Linked DNA regions of Homo sapiens. The protein of the gene in region 1 purifies or fractionates together with the protein of each later gene. This does not show direct contact. Each region holds a gene or a part of one and is shown on either strand. Other genes may lie near its edges.

Evidence for each region. The genes of interacting proteins can lie anywhere in the genome.
Region 2: the proteins of NHLRC2 (region 1) and TSR1 purify together in Homo sapiens (affinity purification with mass spectrometry, with the first as the bait; one large-scale study listed by BioGRID). This does not show direct contact.

Annotation. Positions count from the first base shown.
Region 1 is NC_000010.11:113,903,161-113,906,660, forward strand, and holds part of NHLRC2 (NHL repeat-containing protein 2), read left to right. Parts: intron 1-366; coding exon 367-576; intron 577-1,656; coding exon 1,657-1,876; intron 1,877-3,500. UniProt on the Homo sapiens protein: Required for normal embryonic development.
Region 2 is NC_000017.11:2,326,458-2,329,957, forward strand, and holds part of TSR1 (pre-rRNA-processing protein TSR1 homolog), read right to left. Parts: intron 3,019-3,500; coding exon 2,886-3,018; intron 2,754-2,885; exon of another isoform or gene 2,668-2,753; intron 1-2,667. UniProt on the Homo sapiens protein: Required during maturation of the 40S ribosomal subunit in the nucleolus.

The sequences.
Region 1 (3,500 bases):
GCTAGATGCTCAGGAAGACAAAGTCAGTTCAGTTGTGAAAGTGTGTCCCATTGTGAAGAAAAACAATTCAATAAAAAAAAATTTTTTTTAATTCCAGAAATAACTTCATCAAAGATTGCTTCCAGAAGACAAGATGGAGCTAAGGATTTTACATAGTCTTTAGTTCTTAGAATAGAATATCTCCCCTTAGACTGCAATTTGAATGTTTGGCTTTTCAAGAAAATATGGAAATAACTATTCCTTTTGTGAGACTTATTGAGAATATTAATGGCAATCAGAAATTAGCTTGCTTGATACCATACTCTTCCATACAACAAACATGAGATTGATCTTCAGTTATATAAGTTTTTGTTCTTTCTTTTTTAGATTAAAGTTGTGGATCCAAAAACAAAAAACTGTACAACATTAGCAGGAACTGGAGACACAAATAATGTTACCAGTTCCAGTTTTACAGAGTCAACTTTTAATGAACCAGGAGGCTTGTGTATTGGAGAGAATGGAGAATTATTATATGTAGCAGACACCAATAATCATCAAATTAAAGTGATGGATTTAGAAACTAAAATGGTATCTGTGGTAAGTAATTTTAAAATATAAGTTAAAGAATGTGGTTTTAAGAATGATACTAAGATCCTCACAGCACTGACAGAGGCATTTTTGGTTAGACCATCTCCAGGAGAGTATTAAGTGGATGCTTCTGTTGTATTCTTTGACAAAGAGACCAGCAGGACTGCTTTAAGGATATCCTTTTATTCTTAAAATAAAAGTTCCATCTGTGCTGAGAGTTTGAGAAAAATACTGGAAATTGGAGATAATCTAATGAACCTTCAAGAAAAAAAAAAGGAGAGGACTCAGATCTGTTTTTAAGTGTACAGACATACTGACATACACTACATACACCTGCTCTGTGGGTTGGGTTATTTAGCTTATTGTTTTTGTTTTTTTTTTTTTTTCAGTGATCTTTAGATTAACATGTAACCTTTGTTTGCCTGTGATGAATCCATTACCAAATAATCTAACAAAAGCTTTAGAAGCCACTTTCTCAAGACATCGAAAATAAGATTGTGGAAGAAACTTAAATGAGTTATAGTCAGTTTTTAAAGATATGGACGTGGTTTCTTATAGAATTTTCAAGGGGAAATGTCTATTATAAACTAACTCTTGATGTATGACATTTACCTGAAAAAAATGCAACAGTTTTTTTCTGAAAAACTGGTAATTTGCACGGTATATTTTTAAAAGAAACATAGATTACTATTGCAACATAAATGTCATTTCTCTTCACGTAGATCTCTGATATAAGATGAATAACATCTTCTTATAGTTGACAATGAAAATTATAAGAAAATGTATATCTAGCATGTTTAAATTTATAAACTTTTGCTTTAATTTCCTGCCGTCTATATACATTGGACAGTTACTTTAATTCTGCCTCATTCATAAGTGTTGGGTTTTGTTGTTGTCGCTAAGATAAACTTTCTCTGTGTCTACGAAAATAATCTTGAGGGCATCTAACACATTCTAATTCAAACTAGAATGGCGATTAGTTTCATTGACATAGAACTTCATTATTCTACTAAAGTCTAAAAATATGCTCTCATTCTATAATTAATATAAAGTTCTTGTGTTTTAATAACAGATTTTCTTATTTCCTAGCTCCCCATCTTCAGATCTGAAAATGCTGTGGTAGATGGCCCGTTCCTAGTAGAAAAACAGAAGACATTACCCAAACTACCTAAATCTGCTCCAAGCATTAGGCTTTCCCCCGTGACTGCGTGTGCTGGCCAGACTCTTCAGTTCAAACTCAGATTAGACCTCCCATCAGGATCAAAGCTAACTGAAGGAGTATCCAGTTGCTGGTTTCTAACAGCTGAAGGTATGAGTATAAGCTTGCAAATACTAATACATCATATATTCTTGATGTTTAATCTAGTTATTTTTTATTTGTTAGGTGATATTTTTACTCTGTATAGGCAAGATTTGAAGATCATATGAACAAATGAATCCAGATCCAACCCCACATTGGCCATTTGCTTTACTCATCAAGAGTCTTTCTTCCCTTTTATTAAAGAACAGTGTAACTCACCAAAAGTTACAAGTCAGTTGTTAGCATGATTTCTTGGAATGTGGGTTTTCCTATACCTCATCCCTTATTCTGATCCTGTTCTTCATTCTATTCTTGTTCCAAAAAGAATCTTAGAGTTAAAAAGTCTGAAATAGAGAAAGTGGAGCCCTCGTATTTAACATCTTTTTCTGTGACTCTTCCTTTCAGTCACTCTTGGGCATTCCTCCCTTTCTTCTATTTGTGAATCACAGTATGAGCTAGCTCCTTATTTCATTAATCTATGGTAAGGAATCAGTATACTGCTTGCCTTGCAGTATGCATTCCAACATCTGTAACCTGGTGGACAAAAATTTTAAAGTGAAATTTTAGTGGTTCAGAACTTCTAAATTACAACTTGTCTCTAATGATATTCCTCTGTCCTGGTCTCCCACGCTCTTTCACACTTTCTCACTCAATTTTCCATTTCCTTCCCAACTCCTCCTCCTTCATACCCTCTCACACACTTTTCTTTTGTACATTACCCAAATCCTGGGTAATTCATTCCTTCTTACCTTCAACTTTCTCAGGGCAGCAGCCACTGGCCTGCAATTATAATATCAACTTAGTGTCTAAACCAAGAGGATAACGGTATCTTGGTAGACTGGCTGGGAGGAACTGCTGGTTAGTGTTTGGGAGGCTGGTTCTAGGGTGATTGAGTCTGTAGGGAAACCACCCCTTGTCACTTCCCACAAGGGGGAAGGCTAACCATGTACTAGGACCTTTGGAGCTTGCTTTGTAGACAGAAGAATACTCAAACCCTGGCCACTCCATAGCCTTTTGTAGGTTCAGAGCAAGTTCTAGACTGCCAATTTAAGTCTGGAAGTATTACATCAGTTGGAGAACATTAATTTTTCTCAGTGTAACTGTAAGAGCAGTCACTGTTAGAGCAGTGTATTAAATGGTGTCACTGTAGGAGCAGTGTACTAATTTTTAAAATAGGATATTGACAGATTAACATTGGTCTGCATTGTCAGACACACTAATTAATATTGAGTCATTGGGATATAAAATACAGATAGTATTCAAATAAAGTAGTCTATAGAGACTTTATCTAATTTGTCCAAGATATGGGCCCCATTTTTATTATATAGTAGCAGATAATTTTCAGGCAATAATCCTAATAATTTAAGGTTTTTGAATATTATAGAGTACATTTGTACACTTATGTTTAAAGGACATTTTCTCTTTTGGCTTGTTATTTAGAAACACTTATTTTTAGCCAAATTTTGGTCTGTATAATCTTAAAGAAGTTAGAATATATGCAAGTTTTAAGCCAAAAAAAAAAAGGCAGCATAAAAGCACCACATGTGTTGTAACTTCACAAATTGTGTGTGTGATATATATGACAAATATCTAAAGAAACATTTTCTGTTTTATTTCTAGATTTGGACATTAA
Region 2 (3,500 bases), on another chromosome or scaffold:
TTACCCAACTATGAGCCATACCCAGCCTCCATTCCTTCACCCACACTGCCCTTGGCACACTAGACATCAAAGTTTCCACACTTTATCACACCCTTTTAAATTCTGAGAGACAGTGTCTCACTCTGCTATCTAGGCTAGACTGTATTTGGTGTTCTACCTTCAATGTAGCCCTCACCCCCCTTTTAAAAATACTAAACTTATAGGAAAATAAAATATTTTAAGGGCTGTGGTGTGAACACAGCTCACTGGAGCCTCAAACTCCTGGGCCCACTGGCTCAGGCAATCCCTCTTGCCTCAGCCTCCCAAGTAGCTGGGACTGCAAAGCACATGCCACCACACCTGGCTAATTAAAAAGAAAAATTTTTGGCCGGGCGCAGTGGCTCATGCCTGTAATCCCAGCACTTTGGGAGGCCAATGCGGGTGGATCACCTGAGGTCGGGAGTTTGAGACCAGCCTGGCCAAGATGGTGAAACTCTATCTCTACTAATAATAGAAAAATTAGCTAGGCATGGTGGTACACGCCTGTAATCCCAGCTGCTTGGGAGGCTGAGGCAGGAGAATCACTTGAACCTAGGAGGCAGAGGTTGCAGTGAGCCAAGATCCTGCCACTGCACTCCAGCCTGGGCAACAAGAGTGAAACTCCATCTCCCAAAAAAAAAAATTTTTTTTTCGTAGAGGCCGGGCATGTTGGCTCATCCCTATAAATCCCAGCACTTTGGGAGGCCAAGGCACGTGGATCACCTGAGGTCAAGAGTTTGAGAACAGACTGGCCAACTTGGTGAAACCCCATCTCTACTAAAAATACAAAAAGTAGCTGGGCGTGGTGGCAGACACCTATGGTCCGAGCTACTTGGGAGGCTGAGGCGCCAGAATCACTTGAACCTGGGACGGGGAGGCTGCAATGAGCTGAGATCATGTTACTGCACTCCAGCCTTGGTGACAGAGTTGGACTCTATATCAAAAAAAAAAAAAAAAAAATTGTAGAGACCGGAGTCTCACACTCCTGACCTCAAGCGATCCTCCTGCCTCAGTCTCTGCAACTGAGACTTTTATTTAGTTCCAGTTCTAAGGATCTGCCTTTACAAAATAAGCAAAGAAGTAAATAAAGTTTTATGCATACAGATCTAGTTTAGAGCAAAACATTAGAAATAGCCTAAGTGCTCACCCGTAGAAGCTCAAATAAGTATCAGTACATCACATACACTGGAATATATCCAAATGACAATAAAGCATTAAAAGTCTCATTAACTAATTAATCTTATGGAAAATTGATCAAAATCAATTAAGTGATAAATGCAATGTTTAACACCATATTTACAATTACAATCCAAATTGTGTAAAGAAAAAAAATGAGATCTGGATGAAAATGTATAAAATAAAAATGAATTTTCTCTAATATAAGGTAATTTTACTTTTACATTATTCCTTATTTTCCCAACTGTATAAAATATGAAAATAGTTCATCCTAAAAAAAAAAATCAAAACCATTTTGAAACAATAAAAGAATGACTGGCCAGGCGCAGTGGCTCACGCCTGTAATCCCAGCACTTTGGAAGGCCAAGGCAGGAGGATCGCCTAAGGTCGAGACCAGCCTGGCCAGCATGGTGAAACCCCGTCTCTACTAAAAATACAAAAATTAGCTAGGCGTGGTGGCGGGTGCCTGTAATCTCAGCTACTCGGGAAGCTGAGGCAGGAAAACTGATTGAACCTGGAAGGCAGAGGTTGCAGTGAGCCTGGATTGCACCATTGCACTCCAGTTGAGCATCAGAGTGAGACTCGGTCTCAAAAAAAAAAAAAAAAAAAAAGAGGCCAGGCACATTGGCTCATGTCTGTAATCCCAGCACTTTGGGAGACCGAGGTGGGCGGATCACCTGAGACCAGGAGTTCAAAACCAGCCTGAACTCCTGGTCTTGGTGAAACCCCATCTCTACTAAACCCCAACATGGTGAAACCCCATCTCTACTAAAAATACAAAAATTAGCTGGGCATGGTCGTGCATGCCTGTAGTCCCAACTACTCTACTCGGGAGGCTGAGGCAGGAGAATTGCTTGAACCCGGGAGGCGGAGGTTGCAGTGAGCCGAGATCACGCTATTGCACTCCAGCCTGGGCAACGGAGTAAGACTCCGTCTCCAAAAAAACAAACAAACAAACAAACAAAAAAAAACAAAAAAAACAAGAGGGGGCGCGGTGGCTCACACCTGTAATCCCAGCACTTTGGGAGGCTGAGGCGGGCGGCTCACGAGGTCAGGAGATAGAGACCATCCTGGCTAACACGGTGAAACCCCGTCTCTACTAAAAATACAAAAAATTAGCTGGGCATGGTGGCGGGCGCCTGTAGTCCCAGCTACTTGGGAGGCTGAGGCAGGAAAATGGTGTAAGTAAACCTGAGAGGCGGAGCTTGCAGTGAGCCTAGATCGCGCCACTGCACTCCAGCCTGGGCGACAGAGTGAGACTCCGTCTCAAAAAAAAAAAAAAAAAAAAAAAAAAAACAGAAACAAAAACAAGATTAAATCTTACCTTTTTTGGTCTTCAATTCCCCGTTCTAATGCCACAAGTGTTGGGATTACAGGTGTGAACCACTGCACCACTGCACCCACCCTAATACCCTTTTTATAAAGCTGCCAACTTCTATTCAAAACCTGCTATGGAACAAATACTCATGGCAAAAAAGCCTCAGTATCACACAGAAGTTGCATCACTGGGATGCTTCAGACAGGTTCAGACATTTTGAATAAAAACATCATTGGCTCTTAAGCCAGAGTACTGAAAATACCTCTAACCCAGAGATGTAAGATTTTGAAACCATATATTTTGGCACCCCTCCACCACAAGTCACTTTCCCAAAAGACAAGATGGACAAGAACCCAGCTTCCCCATTGCTAACCTGCAGTGTGCTGAGAGAATAAAGGTGAGGCTCGGAAGCGCCTGAATCCACAGTGAAATATGAGCTCTTCCTTGGCTTTCACAGGTTCAGTGTTGCCAGGGTCACGCCTCACCACCATATTCAATACTGACATCTGGGGACCAAGTAAGAAAAACAAAAATCTTCATAGTCTAGGAATACAATTGCCTAAACTGAAAGAAGGCAAACCAAACTAGCAGATTCAGACTCATTCTAAGAACTGACAATGCTAATTAATGGTGGAGTGTAGATGCTGAAACACGGGTTCATCCTTTACCTCCACCAATGACTGGCATTTAAGCCAAACACAGGCTGATCAGAGCTTTCATGCACCCTTCAATGCTAACCTACCTTCCTGCACCTAACAGAAAAGAGCTCAACATCTGCCACACAAAAATCAGTGGCCTTCAAGGCATTCACTCACCACAATCTCAAAACCACACTCATTCAAGCCCCTTCTTCTTGAGCCCTTACCAAAACCGATCAAAGAACTATCACATACCCCACAACATACACAACTACTGGCCACCAAGAGAAAAGAGATCTGCACTTTGGCATAAACTTTTTTTTTTTTTGACATAAGAGTTTCGCTCTTGT